2 separate regions of the Homo sapiens genome follow, and region 1 is linked to region 2. Evidence: fine-mapped expression QTL. Tissue or cell type: lung. Region 2 holds a variant in brackets; the other region holds the start of a gene. All regions are shown on one strand. Distances are between the middles of the regions.

Region 1 (8,179 bases), 710 kb after region 2:
AAAAAAGAATTAGGACCCTTAATGGGCAAAGAATGATCTCTAAACCCTTTTCGATTTCAGGTGAAAGAAATAAGGAGCAGGATGGTGTGTAGAATATGCTACTATGTGTGTAAAAAAAGTGGGGAGAGAAAATATACATACACATATGTATTTGTATATGCACAGAATATCTCTGGAAGGCTACATAAGAAGTTTCTAACAGTGGCTGTCTCTAAGGAGGGAAACTGGGATGGTGGGGGGCGGGGAGGGGGACTTCCCTGCATTCTTATTTGTGTCTCTTGAATTTTGAACTATGTGACTAGTTTATTACCGGTTCAAAAACAAAATTAAAAGTGTAAATTTAAAAAAATTCAAATTAAGTAATAATTGTTTAAAAAACTGGTAGTGTCCAGGGCTGCCTCCAGAAGCTGGTGTGTAGCCTCTGACAGTCCATTCCCATTTCATTTGTGAGGAAAGAGAGGTCCAAAGAACTGAAGGCCATAGGCCACGTAAATGGCCAAGCCTGGGTTTGCAGCTCCTGCCTGGGTCCCACCTCTGCTCATCACACCCTACAAGGAGCCAGCCACTTTCAATCTATGGTAGCGCCTAAGATAAATGGAAGAGCCTAGGCTGCCAGCAACTATTGCCTACATGGCCTTGGGCAAGTTACCACATTTCTGTGCCTCAATTTCCCCAAATGTAAACCCAGAGAAGCTGTTTTTATGATAGTTATGCAACTGCAACTGGCTGGCAATGCCTGGCCTATAAGCAGCTGTTGAACAAATGTCAGCATCTCCCTGGCATCCTGGGCCTGTCGCATGGCTGGCTGGCTGGCTGCTGAATTTGGCTGTAAGGTAGCATGCCTGCTTCTTTGCTCTACATAGCACCTAGGATGTGGCAGCAGCTTGATAAATGAGAAATGTCTCCAAAATGCTGAGGATGGGACACTTCAGAGTCCCTTCTGCAGTAGCCTCTTCCCCACCCAATAAACTAATAAATAAATGCATCTTGGTTTCTATAGGAGGCTAAGCCTAACTCAAAGCATCGTACCAAGAAGACTGGGGCCTTTATTCCCTGGTGGGATGGGAACACCTCCTCACATGGGTGCAGAACCTTATCCACTATTTCAGGAGAACCTCAGAGCATCCCTTGGAATTAGGCAGGGCAGAAAACATTGCCCCCTTTTTTCAGATGGAAAAACTGAGGTCTGGAAGGCACTTGCTATGTCCCACAAATAGAAAGAACTCCCAATAGCTAAACTTAAGTCCAGTGATCACAAATGCCAAGGTCTGTGCCTAACAGAGGTCACACTTGAGGCTGACAACAGCCTAATATATTAGGTACTACTCTAAGACCCATTTCACAGAGGGGTCTGAGGCTCAGAAAGGTTGAGTAACTTGCCCAGGGTCACATAACTAGTAGATGACAAGAGTGAAGTTACACAGCCAAGCAGACTGGGGCCCATGCTGGACTCCTCAGCACACCGGGGAGGACTGGCTGGGAATGGGAATCTGTGTCTGCTGGTTCCAAGTACAGGCATCCTTCCTGCAAGCCTTGAAGCCAGTGAGTCGGGAGGGGCCCAGGCACACTGCAGGCACCCTTGTCAATGTTTGCTGAATGAACGGACTCTGCACGACCAGGACATTCTCCCCTGCTGGGGTAGCATGTACCCTGGAGCCAGCAGGTGGGGGGCCACTGGATGCCCAAGTGCAATGCATCCAGCCAGCAAGTCTATTTTAAACTCCCCTGGTTAGCAGAGCCCCTCCCCAGCCTGGATTCGCATGGAGGCCAGCATTAACAAGCTCACTGTCTGGAAGCTCACTGTGTGGAAAATCGCTTTTTCCACATGCACCCACTCATAGAGGAAAAGCCATGTGAAGGCACAGCAAGAAGGAGGCTGTCTGCAAGCCAGGAAGAGAGCCCTCATCAGAAACCAAATCAACCAGCACCTTGATCTTGCCCTTCCCAGCCTCCAGATCCATGAGAAACAAATTTTGTTTAAGCCACCCAGTCTATGCTATTTTGTCTGGCACAAAATGGTACAAATGTAACAAGCTCACTTGTTACATTTTAAAAATTAGTGTTTAAAATGTAAAAAATAATCATGACCCACCCACATAGAACAAGAGAGAACCGGCAAGTGGTTCTTTCCAGAGGCTCCAGCTACCTGTGGGGGCGGCTAGAAGGTCCACCAGCCCTGTCACTCAGGACCACACCTGGCTAGGGCCCCCTTCTCAGTTCCTAGCGTCTATTTGTCAAGGCTTGACTGAGCTTCTGAAGAAGGAGCCAGGAATTTTCTCTAACCAGGGTCACAGGCCAGGGCACTGGAGTGAGCAAAGTCTTATTAGTCTTTATAAAAGCTAGCTGCTGGCTTCTGGATTAAAAAATAAAGAGAAAGGCAGGCAAGGAAGTGCCCAACCTTCCCCAAAACAAGCTGGCTGTGGCCTGGAACGTGCTCCTGGGTCACCTGCGGGAGCCCGGCCATGCACAGACAGACAGCCCCACACAAGGAGGCAGGCACTGCTGGGGCCGCGGCAAAACCTCATCTGGGCTGGGAAGCCTGGGTGCTGGTTCCAAGGAGGTTCCTGACTCTGGCTAGGTGGCTCGCCCCTCTGTGCCTCGATCTCCTGGGCTGTGAACCGGGGTGGGGAGCTGGTAGGGCTAACCTGTGGGAAGGCACTGGGAAGCGCAGGGCACCGCCTACTGGCCGCGGCAGAACCGGCTTTGCGGTGTAAACAGCCCCAGCCTCAGGCCCCGCAGCTGGGACCGAGAGAATCAGCCACCGTCTGGATACTTCGGGCCGACGGGTCCATACCAGGCCCCCACCATACAGGCGGTGAGGTCCAGTCTCAGGGAGGAGGAGGGGAGAGGATTTGGGGAAGAGAAGATAGAGACCCAGAAAGAGGGGTGGCAGAGAGCAAGGAGAGAGAGGAGGGACGGTGGGGAAGGGACCACGGATGGGGTAGGGTCCTGCGGCTCCCCTGGCAGCCCGCAGCCGCCCCCAGGGCCCGGGAGGGAGGTCGCTGAGCGCGAGTCTGGGGGCGGCCGGGACCGTAGCCGGAAGAGCCCGAGCCGGCCCGCACTTACTGTCGCCGCTGCGCCACGCCGCCGCTGCCTCCGGCGCACGGCCAGGACCACTGGGCTTGGCAGGCGGCAGGCGGGCTCCTCCCCCGGCCCCGCCCCGCCCCTCGCGGCAGCACGCCGCCGCTTCCCCGTTTGCAAACACGCTTTTTTCCTTTGTCTTCTGCCGGCGCGCCGGGGCTCCCCCTTCTGGCGCTGAGCTGGGGCCTGCGTGCGCCCATTTTATAGGAGAAAAAGTGAGTCACCCAGTCTTAAACGCACTGCCCATGCTTGCGATGGGTGCGCTGCGCATCAGGCCTTTTGGTTGCTGCTCCTTCTTTACCTTGGAGCCAGACCCCACTGTCTCAGACCTCCCCTTTAGCTACTATAACCTGCACCCCAGGACTCAAAGGAGCCCTCATCTTGTCCCCAGGCCGCTGCAGAGACCCCTCTCCAAAGGCCGCTTCTACCCTTACCGGCTGCCGCTGCTCTGGAGGTGAAGCGGGACCCACACCCGGACTGAACTGGGCCTCCCAGGCCAGGCAGCTATTTTCAGTAGACCCAGAACATGGCAGTCAGCAATTCCAGCCCTCACACTTGACCTCAGCCATAGCGTGTAACACACAGCTGCCGCGTGTTCTTTAAGAAAGCAGGGGCCGGGCGCGGTGGCTCACGCCTGTAATCCCAGCACTTTGGGAGGCCGAAGCAGGCGGATCACCTGAGGTCGGGAGTTTGAGACCAGCCTGGCCAACATGGCGAAACCTCGTCTCTACTGAAAATACAAAAGTAGCCGGGCATGGTGGTGCGTGCCAGTGATCCCAGCTATGTGGGAGGCTGAGGCAGGAGAATCGCTTGAACCCGGGAGGCGGAGATTTCAGTGAACCGAGATGGTGCCACTGCACTCCAGCCTGGAGCCTGGGCGACAGAGCAAGACTCCATCTCAAAAAAAAAAAAAAAAAAAAAAAGGCGGAAACCTTCCTGACTCCCGGTCCTGGCCCAGTTGGCCTATTCAGAGCGGGGATCTGGATGCTTCACAGGGCCTGAAGATCTGTGACCATGGATAGTAAATTCTTGCAGTTGCCATCCCAGGGCTCAGGGGTGCCACAGAACCCATTGAGGCTGTCAGTGTGTGGACAGGTTCTCAGAACATCCCCACTCCCTGCCCCAGCCTCTCATTTTATAACCACCATTCCCCAAACACTGGCCTGATCATAAAAGTCTCGAGTACACATCCAGATTCTGGGGACCTCTCCCCAGGAGGGTTGCTGCCACTCCCCAATCCCTGAGGGTGGTGCTGTATCTGCTTTGTTTGCTCTTCCCTCATCGTGGGCACATAATTTGTGTTCAATAAATACCTGGATTAATACAACCCATCACTCAGGGGGTGCAGAATGGGGATCCAGAATGGATCTATTTAACAAGCTCCACCAGCAGGCGAGTTTGGAGACTAGCACCCTAAATTGTCAGAAAGCCCCCCGGCCCAGGAGAGGAAGGGGCTTAGCTCCAGGCTTACAAGCTGAGGGATAATGGTAAAATTACTAAACCTCTCTGAAACCCAGGGTCGGCTTAGGACTGTCGGGAGAATTAAGTCAGGTGATCCATGCCAGGCACTCAATGCAAATTTCCATCACTTCCAAGGAAGACACTCCCCACCCCCAAAATGTGATAGTGTATATGTTAGTTTAGTCATCAGGCCTTATTTTTAGCCTCTTTACGTTGGAAAAAAATCCTCTAATATACAGAGCATTTTCATGAACAGTCTCCCATTTGATTCCACCCCCCCACCCCAGTACCCAGTGAAATGGGACTGTTGTCCCCATTTTACAGATGAGGAAAGCCAGGCTCAAAGAGGTCAAGTGGCTTCCCAGGGCACACAGCTGGCAGTGATGGAGTGGCAGAACCCAGAGCCAAGGCTCTTTTTGTCATGCCCGGTTACAGGCAGGCAGGTGAGGCTGAGGGGAGCTGGGACAGCACGAGGGACAAAGCCGTAGGATTCAGTGAGGGCAGCAGATCAGGGCTATTTCTGGTCCAGCCCCAAGACCATGACCCATGTCTGTGAAGCTCCGGTGCTTTGTCACTTGATTGCTTTTACTTCATGCAGAGTCCTGAGTTGTTTGTAGTCATTGTTATCTTTATCTTTGGAGAATGTGCATGTATGTGAGTGAGTGAGACAGTTTCAGGACACCTGCTTAGAGAATCAGAGGTGCCAGGAGCCCTCTTCCAGAGCTCTGAGGCTGAGGTCTTTCTCCAAATGGAGGAGGCGCCAGCCACTTGGGGATTTGCTGGTTGCTAGGGCTGAGTTCAGGAAGGGGCTCTGGGGATGGCCTCCATCATGAAAGCAGAAAGCCGTGGGAGGAAACAGGTTGCTAATGCATCCGTGGGGCTGCTTCCCGGACAATGTGGGCTTGTCTTCTCCTCCAGGATCTAGGCGGATGGCGGTGGTAATGTCTAGCTTGGGGACAAGATGAGTCAGGTACTGTTGGGCACACAGCTTCCCAGGGAATGTTTGAGGCTTTGGGGGATCAGGGAAGGAACAGGAGAATGGGGGTCCAGAGCCCTGAGCTCTGAGTCTGCCCTGGCCCCTGACCAGCAGGCCCTTCAGTGACCAGGTAATAAAAACATTTACCCTGACAGATGATCAGAAAAGAGGGAGATTGGGTCAAGAAAGGGAAGTAGAGAGGAAACAGAATAAAAGTGTTTTCACAATACCTACTTCATAGCAGCGGACTCCAGGGAGGGGAGGGATGGGGAGGCTGGGGTGGGCAGGCCTCAGAAATTGGCTGGGTTCCTGTCCCTTGCCTGAAGTTATCCTGAACATTGCTTTTGATAAGTGCTATAGGAGCGGAAAGGTAATTTTTTCTAGCCTTCATGAGGTAGGGTAGACACCTGAAACAATCTTGAGATTGAGAAGAGAAAAACAAACAGAAGTTTAGTAATGTGTATATGTCATGTGCACTTGGGAAATACTCAGAGAAATAAGTAAATCTCCAAAAACCACGGCTTTGAGTTCAGGCTTAAATGCCATCTTCAACTGAAACAAAGAAAGAAGGCCCAGCTGTGGGGATGTGGGCAGGAAAAGCTTAGTCAACAAGGGGAAGGTTGGTCTTGCAGACTGAAGTCCATGCCTTCTCCATTGGTGTTTCTAGTGATTAGAGACATCTTTCTCTTCCTGGTGCAGACAGGGAGACACCCTGATGTATGATTTCTTTTAAAGATGTAAGTTTCTCTTTCAAAGGGTAAGTTTTCCTTTTGTTCTTAGAGCTTCTCCTGTGTCTGCAGTTTCTCAAAATAACCAGCTCAGAATTATTCTTATGCCAAGGAGCCATATTTTGGGTGGCCTATTCTGGTCTGGTCTCCTACAGTCATAAGTTTGCGGTAGTGTGTCCTGAACCCCATCTGTGTCTAGGAATGCAGTGGCCATGCTTTTCTGCCTTGATAGCTCCCAACTCTGTATCTGGCTGGGGCATATGAGGCATTGCAACCGAGTGGATTCAATGACAACAACCATCTGTGCTCAAGTATTGTTGGAGAAGGTCAGGGAAAATATTTGTAAATGGTAAAGTACTACATCCATTAGGCATCTTTATTCTTATACATGAGGAGAAAAAGAGGAGGAGGATAAGAAGGAGAAGAGAAGGAAGGAAAACTCCAAATGGCCAAAGCACTTTCCACTGGATCGACATTTTACAATCCTTAATCCTTTGAAAAAGCACCCTGGCCGGGCGCAGTGGCTTGCGCCTGTAATCCCAAGCGCGATTATTTTGGGAGGCCAAGGCGGGCAGATCACGAGGTCAGGAGTTTGAGATCAGTATGGCCAACATGGTGAAACCCCATCTCTACTAAAACTACAAAAAAAAAAAAAATAGCTGAGCATGGTGGTGGGCACCTGTAATCCCAGCTACTCGGGGTGCTGATGCAGGAGAATTGCTTGAACCCAGGAAGGCGGAGGGTGCAGTGAGCCGAGATTGCGCTACTGCACTCCAGCCTGGGCAACAAGAGCGAGACTCTGTCTCAAAAAAAAAAAAAAAAAAGATAGAAAGAAAAAGAAAAAGAAAAGAAAAAGCACCTTGTTTCTCCTTGGTTTGGAAATGCCCTGAAAGGTTCTGAGTGCTGGCAGAAGCCATCCCAGTATCACAAGAGGACCAGCTCCAGGCCCAGGGAACTGGAGGATGAGATGCCAAGGCTGGCCAGGGTGGCCGATAGGGAAGCCTCTTGGCTTGGTGGTCAGAACTGGGCCCTGGAGCCAGACAGACCTGGGCTAGGATGCTTTTTATGTGGCCCTACGAAGTCAAGCCTCAGTTTTCTCATCTGTAAAGGGGGTGAGAATAACAACCTAACAGCCTTCTAGGAGGCACAGAGTAGGTGTATGGATTGCTGTTAAAGACGGTGAGCCAGAGGACACAGCTCCCGCTCTGCCTCCAGCCCCCTGACGGCCGCCCCCATCCCGTAGAATCCACCACACACCATGAGGTCGGTGCAATTGTCAGCCCCGTTTAGCTTATGCGGAAACTGGGGCACAAAGAGGTTAGTACCTCATTCAGAGTCACACAGCTAGTCAGCGGCAGAGCCAAAATTCACATGGTTGCCTTTCTGCCTCCAGAACCCACCCAGGAGACTCCATGAAAAGTGGTTGGGAGTGGGGGTCACACAAGCCCTCATCTTTAAGACTGGAGCCCTACAGGCTCTCCTCTTCTTCTCTTCCCCAGGGTCTGTTGACCTGCAGGCGACATAACAATCAGGAAGAGTCAGAATATTTTTCACAGGCTCCTTTTGGGGGAGGGTGCGGGGCGTTGGGGCGGGGGGGCGGTGCGACGGGCGGAGCGGAGAGCGCCAGGCATAAGGCTCATGGGCCGATGCTGCCATCTCGTGGAACTTCTCTATCAGTGCAATGCTCACAGATTGGGGTCACTCACTCACTACGGTCTTTCTTTCCAGGGTTACTGGATACCCGTGCGAGGCACGAGGATTCTGAGAGATAGGGTTAGTAGTTATGGTGATAAAGCCATAACTACGGACTCATAACTTCTCTGCTTCCACATCACTAATTTATTTTTTAAGAGCCAGGGTATTGCTCTGTCACCCAGGCTGGAGTGCAGTGGCATGATTGTAGCTCACAGCAGCGTCCAGCTCCTGAGCTCAA
Region 2 (8,179 bases):
GCACTTTGGGAGGCTGAGGCGGGCGGATCACGAGGTCAGGAGATCGAGACCATCCTGGCTAACATGGTGAAACCCCGTCTCTACTAAAAACACAAAAAAATTAGCCAGGTATGGTGGTGGGCACCTGTAGTCCCAGCTACTTGGGAGGCTGAGGCAGGAGAATGGCATGAACCCGGGAGGTGGAGCTTGCAGTGAGCCGAGATCGTGCCACTGCACTCCAGCCTGAGCCACAGAGTGAGACTCTGCCTCAAAAACAAAAAAACAAAACAAAACAAAAAATTCCTGGACACCTTTCTCTGTCAGCCCACCTAGCTTCTGACTGCTGCATACCTTTCATAATAGGACTCTCCAGCCATGTGTCTGCCCCTCCCCTCGTGGTGGACCTTTGGTTCTTTCCATTTCTCATCAGTTCAAAAATGCGCATTGCGTGGCCAGGCACGGTGGCTCACGCCTGTCATCCCAGCGCTTTGGGAGGCCGAGGCGGGTGGATCACCTGAAATTAGGAGTTCAAGACCAGCCTGGACAACATGGTGAAACCCCATCCCTACTGAAAAAACAAAAATTAGCCAGGCGTGGTGGCTTGCGCCTGTAATCCCAGCTACTTGGGAGGTTGAGGCATGAGAATCGCTTGAACCTGGGAGGCAGAGGTTGCAGTCAGCCAAGATTGCACCACTGCACCCCAGCCTGGGCCACAGAGCAAGATTCTGTCTCAAAAAAAAAAAAAAAAAAAAAGAAAGAAAAGAAATGCACATTGTGTGTGTTGGAAAAGCCTCCCTGGATGCACAGGGCAGGGCTTCCCCGGGGCAGAAGCGAAGACTTCACTTGCACGCTACAGCCTTGGAAATGGAGGCCCGAGGGGCTGTAATGTCCCAAGGTGAGGTCACACCAGGCGTCTCAGCCCCTCCTTTCAGGCCCTAGAGCCTGGTGTCCCCCTCCTTCCTCTCCACTGGGAGTCTCTGCCCTGAAAGAGGAGGGGAGGGACTAGGAGATCAGGCTGGGGAAAGGAGGGAAGGGGTGACTAGGTAACAGGGGGCTTCTCCCTGTGATGCTAGCAGACCCAGTGGGGACAACTGGGGAGGCAGCACAGAGACCCCTGAGGAGCTACCACACTGGAGGGGAAATACAGCCACCAAGGGCCACTGGGCCCCAGGTCTCCTGAGAACCCTCTCCTGGGTGTCCTGCTTTGGAAAAAGGCTCTGTCCAGAGTGACACTGACTCAGAAGCTATCAGGTAGGGGCCCAGACCCTTTGAGCTCAGCCTAGAACCCTGCATCCGCCAGCCCTAGGTCCTCTCAGGCTGCTGCCCCGTCACATGTTCTTACAGTACAGATACTGCACAGCAGATCCGTCAGGTCAGCCAACGAACGCTCAGGGCCGGAGGAAGAGGCCAGCTGAGCCTGTGCAGCCCACCCCTTTTCACAGCAGACCAGGTGACAGAAACGCCAACTCGGGTCCCCGAGAGCTCCTGCCATGCTTTGTGCTGGGCCTGCTGGGGACATCCACGGAAGGCACAGCTAGCTGAGGTTAAACTGGCAGGAGGATTTAGAAACTTCTAGGTGACATCACACAATAACAAGCAGAACAGACCTAACTAAAGGTTAACTAACCAACCACTGACTGGGAGCTTGAAACATGCCACATACTGTATCGAGCTGGCTCCCATCTCTCCTGCACTGGGAGGTCAGTGTTATGACAATCCCCCTTCTACAGACCAGGAAACAGGCTCGGAAGGGCACAGAACTTAGTCCAGTCCTGCAGGGGATAAGTAACGTGCCTGGGACTCAAACCCAGGCCTGTCTGACACTGACCTTCTGCTACTAAATGGTTTATAACCTTTGGAGTATCCTGGACCTCTATGAGATTTTTTTTTTTTTTTGAGACAGAGTCTCACTATGTTACCCAGGCGGAGTGCAGTGGTGCGATCACAGCTCACTGCAACCTCTGCCTCCCCGGCTCAAGTGATTCTGAGGCACAAGAGTACAGCTCTGGAGTAGCTGGGTTTACAGGCATGTGCCACCACACAGGGCTAATTTTTGTATTTTTAGAAGAGATGGGGTCTTGTCATGTTGGCCAGGCTGGTCTCAAACTCCTGACCTCAAGTGATCCGCCCACCTCAGCCTCCCAGAGGGCTGAGATTATGGGTGTTAGCCACTGTGCTGCCACCCTTTGAGATTCTAATGGAAGCCTGGAGCCCTTTAACCAGAAAAGTGCCTTGGTGTAAACACAACATGTGTGTGCAGGGCCTGCTTCCTGGGCATATGGCCTGGGCAGTTGCACAGGACCCCAAATTCACAAAAGCCCCATTTTTGGTTTAATGCTCTGCTGTTGCCATCATGAAATGCTTAATGCTTTTGTACAAGGGGTGCCACATTTTCATTTTGCCCCGGGCCCTGCAACTTCTGTAGTCTGTCCTGCATATGCGACACTGACACACACATGTCCACATGCACCACCACTTTGCAAATGACTTTAGGTGTGCAGGAATCCTATAGGCCATTATAGACTCAGGAGATACCCTTTCGCTTTGCCCTGCACCCTGGCAAGCTGTGCACACGTGCATGTGTGTGTGGAGGAAACTGTCAGGTGGATCTGAGTGTGGGCAGGGAGCTGGGCCAGCAAGCAGGGGAGGGGGCGGCAAGGCCAGCATCGACTTCCACACAGACCGTGACAGCAACTCCTACGCCTCCGGGAGAGGGAACCAGTCCTGGTAATAAATAGCCCATATCCTCAATCCATGTCCTTAAAAATCTGTCCCCTTCTTGGACAGGACAAGGGGCCTTTGTCAGGCATGGTGGCCTCAGAATAAACACAGGAAGGCGACCAGTGGCGGATGATCGGGCTGCTGTCTGGGGCAGAGTTTTCTAAGTCAGGCTTGGCATTTCACTCAGAATGCTCCTGCCTGTGGCCAACTGGAGGGATCCCTGTGCCCACGCCTGAAAGCAAGAATGTCCAGGCCGGGCAACGGGGCACAGAGATGGTTACACAAGCCTCTGAGGACAGAGAGAGCACCCTGAGCCTCTGCAGTCGGGAAGCGGCAGCTGGTGTGGGAAGGGGCTTTATACAATCTTCCCTTGATCTGTGTGATCTTGGGCAAGTGGCTTAATGTCTCCATGACTCAGTTTCCTATCTGTAAAATGCAGGTGATCATGATACCTACCCCAGGATTTTTGTGAATGTTGAATTATTGTCTAATGTCCTTCCAACAAAGCACAATAAATAATAGCTGTATTTATCATTATCATTATTATTATTTGAAACTAGGTTAGAGGACCAGGCTTCAACATAGCTGTGCTTTTAGTTTCACTGTTTGTTCATGTTATTTTTTAAAATCAGTTAAAGCCCCATGTGAGAGATCATATGCGGGGAGTGGGGAGGATTCACCAACAAAGGTTGGAGAATTAATACGGGGATGAAAAGCACCCAGGGAGAGACACAGGGCTGGTGTGTGTGTGTGTGGGGGGGGGGGTCATCCCATGACACAAGAGTCTGGAGTGCCTGGGAGGGAACGGGCCAGAGTCTAAGGCTAGGCTCTCTTCAGGGGAAAGGTTTGGAAAAGGAGCATTTCTTTTCTTTCCTTTTTCTTTTTATTATTATTTTTTTGAGACAGGTCTGTCATCCAGGCTGGAGTGCAGTGGCACGATCACAGATCACTGCATCCTCGCCCTTCTGGGCTCAAGCGATCCTCCTGCCTCAGCCTCCTGGGTACCTGGGACTACAGGTTCATGCCACCACTCCCAGCTAATACATTTTTTAATTTCTTTGTAGAAATGGGGTCTTGCTATGTTGCTAGGGCTGGTCTCAAACTCCTGGGCTCCAACTATCCTTCTACTTTGACCTCCCAAAGTGCCAATGTTACAGGAAAGGGGTCCCCACCCCATGTCCCA[A/T]GAGAGGGTTCTTGGATCTCGTGCAAGAAAGAATTCAGGGCAAGTCTGCGGTGCAGTGAAAGCAGGTTTATTAAGAAAGTAAAGGAATAAAAGAATGGCTACTCCATAGACAGAGCAGCCCTGAGAACTGCTGTTTGCCCATTTTTATGGTTATTTATTGATGATATGCTAAAAAAAAAAGGGGTGGATTATTCATGCCTCCCCTTTTTAGACCATATAGGGTAACTTCCTGATGTTGCCATGGCATCTGTAAACTGTCATGGCGCTGGTGGGAGTGTAGCAGTGAGGATGACCAGAGGTCACTCTCGTCACCATCTTGGTTTTGGTAGGATTTAGTGGCTTCTTTACTGCAAGCTGTTTCATCAGCTAGGTCTTTATGACCAGCATTTTGTGCTGACCTCCTGTCTCATCCTGTGACTTAGAATGTCTTAACTATCCGGAAATGCAGCCCAGTGGGTTTCAGCCTCATTTTACCCAGCTTCTATTCAAGATGGAGCTGCTCTGGTTCACATGCCTCTGACACTGGAATTACAGGTGTGAGTCACCTTGCTGGCCTCTTTTCCCTTTAGTAACAGCCAAGGGGCTGTTTCTGTGTCTTCACATGTGACAGATTCACGTGTGACACATCACTGGGCTCCGGGCTTGCGCCCAGCCTCGTCTTTCGGCCCAGTCACAGGAATAAGGTGCTCCGGGGGTTGTGAGCAGCCTCCTGGCACAGAGCAGGACAGGGTGTTGGGGGGCCAGGGAGGCTGGCAGTGGGGACTGGAAGGAGGGTCCCATGCTTTACCCCCCCACACACCCAGGGCTAAGAAGAGTGCTGCCCTGGAGTCCTGGGGCCTGAGAGGAGGGGGATTTAGTCATCACTGTTCACCCTCCCCCAGTATTCCAGAGGAATTGCAGCCATCTCTGTGGACAAGGCAGCTTGTTGTCTGTGAGCACTTTATGATTTTGAAATTCATCCCTGCCATAATTATAAATTAACATTTGGAGGGCTTTCTACATGCCAAGCTCTTTTCTAAGCCCTCCTGTCCGCCTTTTTTTGGAGTCAAGGTACCACTCTGTTGCCCAGGCTGGAGTGCAGTGGCTACATCTCAGCTCACTGCAGCCTCGATGTTCTGGGCTCAAGTGATCCTCCCGATTCAGCCTCCTAAGTAGCTGGGACTACAGGCATATGCCACCACGCCGGGCTAATTTTTAAATTTTCCATAGAAATGGGATCTCGCTAGGTTGCCCAGGTTAGTCTCCAGCTCCTGTCCTCAAATGATCCTCCTGCCTCGGCCTCCCAAAGTGCTGGGATTACAGGTGCGAGCTGCTGCATCCGGCCTCTTTTTAAGCTCTGTCTGCATTATCTCATTCAAATCTCACAACATTCACAACGTTCAGGGCTGAGAAAACTGAGGCTGTGAAAGGGACAATCACAAGCCCCAGGTTGCCCAGCCAGGGAAGCACTGTGAGCCGGGACGGGAACTCAGCTCAGGGGAACGTCAAAACTGTGTTCTTAACAACAGTCAGCCCAAACATTGGGTCCCTAAGCCCATGGCTTCAAGCTGGCCCTTCTCTGTGGGACAGTAGCAGCCCTCCCATCTGCTGATGTTTCTCTCTACCAGCCCCTCAGCATCTGGACAAGGCAGCTGACCCCTTCCACGTGCCCACATACCTTGGTAGCAGAGGGACCTCTCAGCATTTTTACTGGCTTTTCAGATTAAAAAAAAAGTTAGCCAGGTGTGGTGGTGGGCACCTCTATTTCCAGCTGCTTGGGAGGCTGACGCCCGAGAATTGCTTGAACTCGGGAGGCGGAGGCTGCAATGAGCCGAGATTGCGCCACTACACTTCAGCCTGGGCGACAGAGTGAGACTCCATCACAAAAAACCCCCAAAACAAAAAAAACAAAAACAAAAAAACTGGGAGAAGAAGGAAATGGGGAGGAGTTGAGCGGAGGCTCAGGAGAGTCAGGCAAATGAACCACAAGAAGCTGGGAGAGGGGCTGATCTTTCCATCTCCTGTGAAGGCAGCCGTGACATCCTCCACTGGAAGGATGAGTACCTGGGGCTGGAAGGGGTTGCACAACTTGCTCAAAGCCACCAGCCTTGTTCCTGACAACCTGACACCCTCACAGACCCACCATTGTCCCCCTGCCCAGAGTTCCAGCACTGCGTGGGGTGAGGCGGGAGGTGAGGCAGTGTTTGCAACAGCTCAAGGCCGCAGTCCAGGATGACCCTGCCTCCCCTTAAGCTGCCTGCCCGAGAGAACAAACACAAGGCTGCCGCCAGAACTGTTTGTTCCAGCCAAGCCCCGAAGATAGGGCCCCTGCTCCCACTCTCTGTAGGAAGATAGGAGCCTCACTCCCATGGCGCCGGTTAGCATTGGACCAAGCTCCTTCTCCCGGCTTTTTGTAATGTATCACTTTGTCCCATCCATCCTAATACACACACACACACACACACACACACACACACACACTCACAGGAGGACTGGTCAGGGTTCCCTGCACATGACCCTCATATTTTGTAGGGGAAACTGGGATTCATTTCGGATCATCCACTCTTTCCTCCCTCCTAAGACCATGTTCCTCATATTCCGCCACCTCAGACGAGGTGGGGCTCAGTCTTTGTTCAAGCCGTATTGCTTCAGCCTCATAACTTCAAGACCTTGAGCAAGTTACTTTACACCTCCAAGCCCTGGTTTCCTCATCTGCAAAGTGGGAATAATAAAATAATCTAGTTTGCAGAGTTGCTGAGAGATTGTTTTATTTTTGTTTAGTTTCTGTTTTGTTTTGCTTTTTTTGAGAAGGAGTCCCGCTCTGTTGCACAGGCTGGAATACAATGACGCAATCTCGGCTCACTGCAACCTCTGCCTCCCGGGTTCAAGTGATTCTCCTGCCTCAGCCTCCCGAGTAGCTGGGATTACAGGTGAGCACCACCAGGTTGGGCTAATTTTTGTATTTTAGTAGAGACGGGGTTTCACCATGTTGGCCAGGCTGAACTCCTGACCTTAGGTGATCCGCCCACCTCAGCCTCCCAAAGTGCTGGGATTACAGACGTGAGCCACCACGCCTGGCCAAGATTGTTTTACGTCAACAGCGAAACAGTATCTGGTACAGAGTAGGTGTTAAACAAATAATTGCTATTGTTATTTTGTTATTATCTGGTCCTCACCTCTATCCTCAAAAATAGCTCCAGTTGACTCAGTTATTCCTCTTTTATAAATCACTACCAAAACCAACACTTATCAAAACACCACTCTGTATCCCATAAATATATACAATTATTATATGTCAATTGAAAATAAAAGGGAAAAAAACCAATACAAACAAATAAAAAACACCCAGGTGTGTTTCAGCATCTCTCGTCTCCTTGGGGCACTAACTCCTTGCCACACTTCACCTGCATGAGAGCTGAGTAAGCTTCTGGAGCTTTGGAGAAAGTCTGGGGTCAGGAAATTGGGAGATGTTACTGGCACCTGAGAGGGGGAAGCTGTGAGTGGGGACAGGAGAGACTGCCCAGCTGCAGCTCAAGTCCAGAGTGGTTCAAAGGGCATGGCTGGGGGACAGAAAGCGTATACTCCCTTGCCTCCTGTACTAGTGCAGGAACTGTGAAATAGGCATTCAAATATGCAACTGGCAGGAATGTCATTTGTACAACCATTTCAGAACATTGGTTGGTAGGCTGGGATAGTGGCTCAGGCCTGTAATCTCAGTACTTTGGGAGGTTCAGGTGGGAGGACTGCTTGAGCCCAGGAGTTAGAGACCAGCCTGGGCAACATAGGGAGACCCCATGTCTATTATTTTTTAAAAACAAAAACAACAACAAAAAGAACATTAGTTGGCAGCATGAATTGAGAGATACTAAAATGTAGATTTTTGTTGTTGTTGTTTTGAGACAGAGTCTCACTGTGTCGCCCAGGGTGGAGTGCAGTGGCGCGATCTCGGCTCATTGCAGCCTCTGCCTCCTGGGTTTAAGTGATTCTCATGTCTCAGCTTCCCAAGTAGCTGGGATTACAGGCATTTACCATCACACCGGGCTAATTTTTGTATTATTAGTAGAGACGGGGTTTCACCATGTTGGCCATGCTGGTCTCGAACTCCTGACTTCAGGTGATCCACCCGCCTTGGCCTCCCAAAGTGCTGGGATCACAGGCGTGAGCCACCACACCCAGCCTAGATATTCTTTGATGCTAAAATTCTGTTAACAGAAATGTATCCTAGGAAGATAATAGAGTACGAGAAAAAAAAACCCCAGAGATGCAGATTGAGTTTTTTACATAAAGAGGTTCATGTTATGCTATTTAGAATAACAA

The links. PIP is the estimated chance that this variant, and not a neighbour inherited with it, causes the effect.
Region 1: SLC29A3 starts here. The variant in region 2 is fine-mapped to the expression of SLC29A3 in lung (TOPMed, PIP 0.96).

Annotation. Positions count from the first base shown.
Region 1 is chr10:71,314,198-71,322,376 of GRCh38, reverse strand. SLC29A3 (solute carrier family 29 member 3) reads right to left here and starts at 3,118. Exons shown (of 6, transcript NM_018344.6): 1 at 3,067-3,118. The coding sequence starts at 3,067. LOC124902445 (a long non-coding RNA gene) reads left to right here and starts at 2,714. Exons shown (of 2, transcript XR_007062183.1): 1 at 2,714-2,815; 2 at 3,473-4,408. RefSeq lists a silencer at 2,872-3,321.
Region 2 is chr10:72,028,871-72,037,049 of GRCh38, reverse strand. LOC124902448 (a long non-coding RNA gene) reads right to left here. Exons shown (of 2, transcript XR_007062187.1): 2 at 8,131-8,179. Among named protein-coding and RNA genes, the nearest start is that of SPOCK2, 56 kb to the left of the region's middle. The variant A/T (reference allele first, on the strand shown) is at 3,884.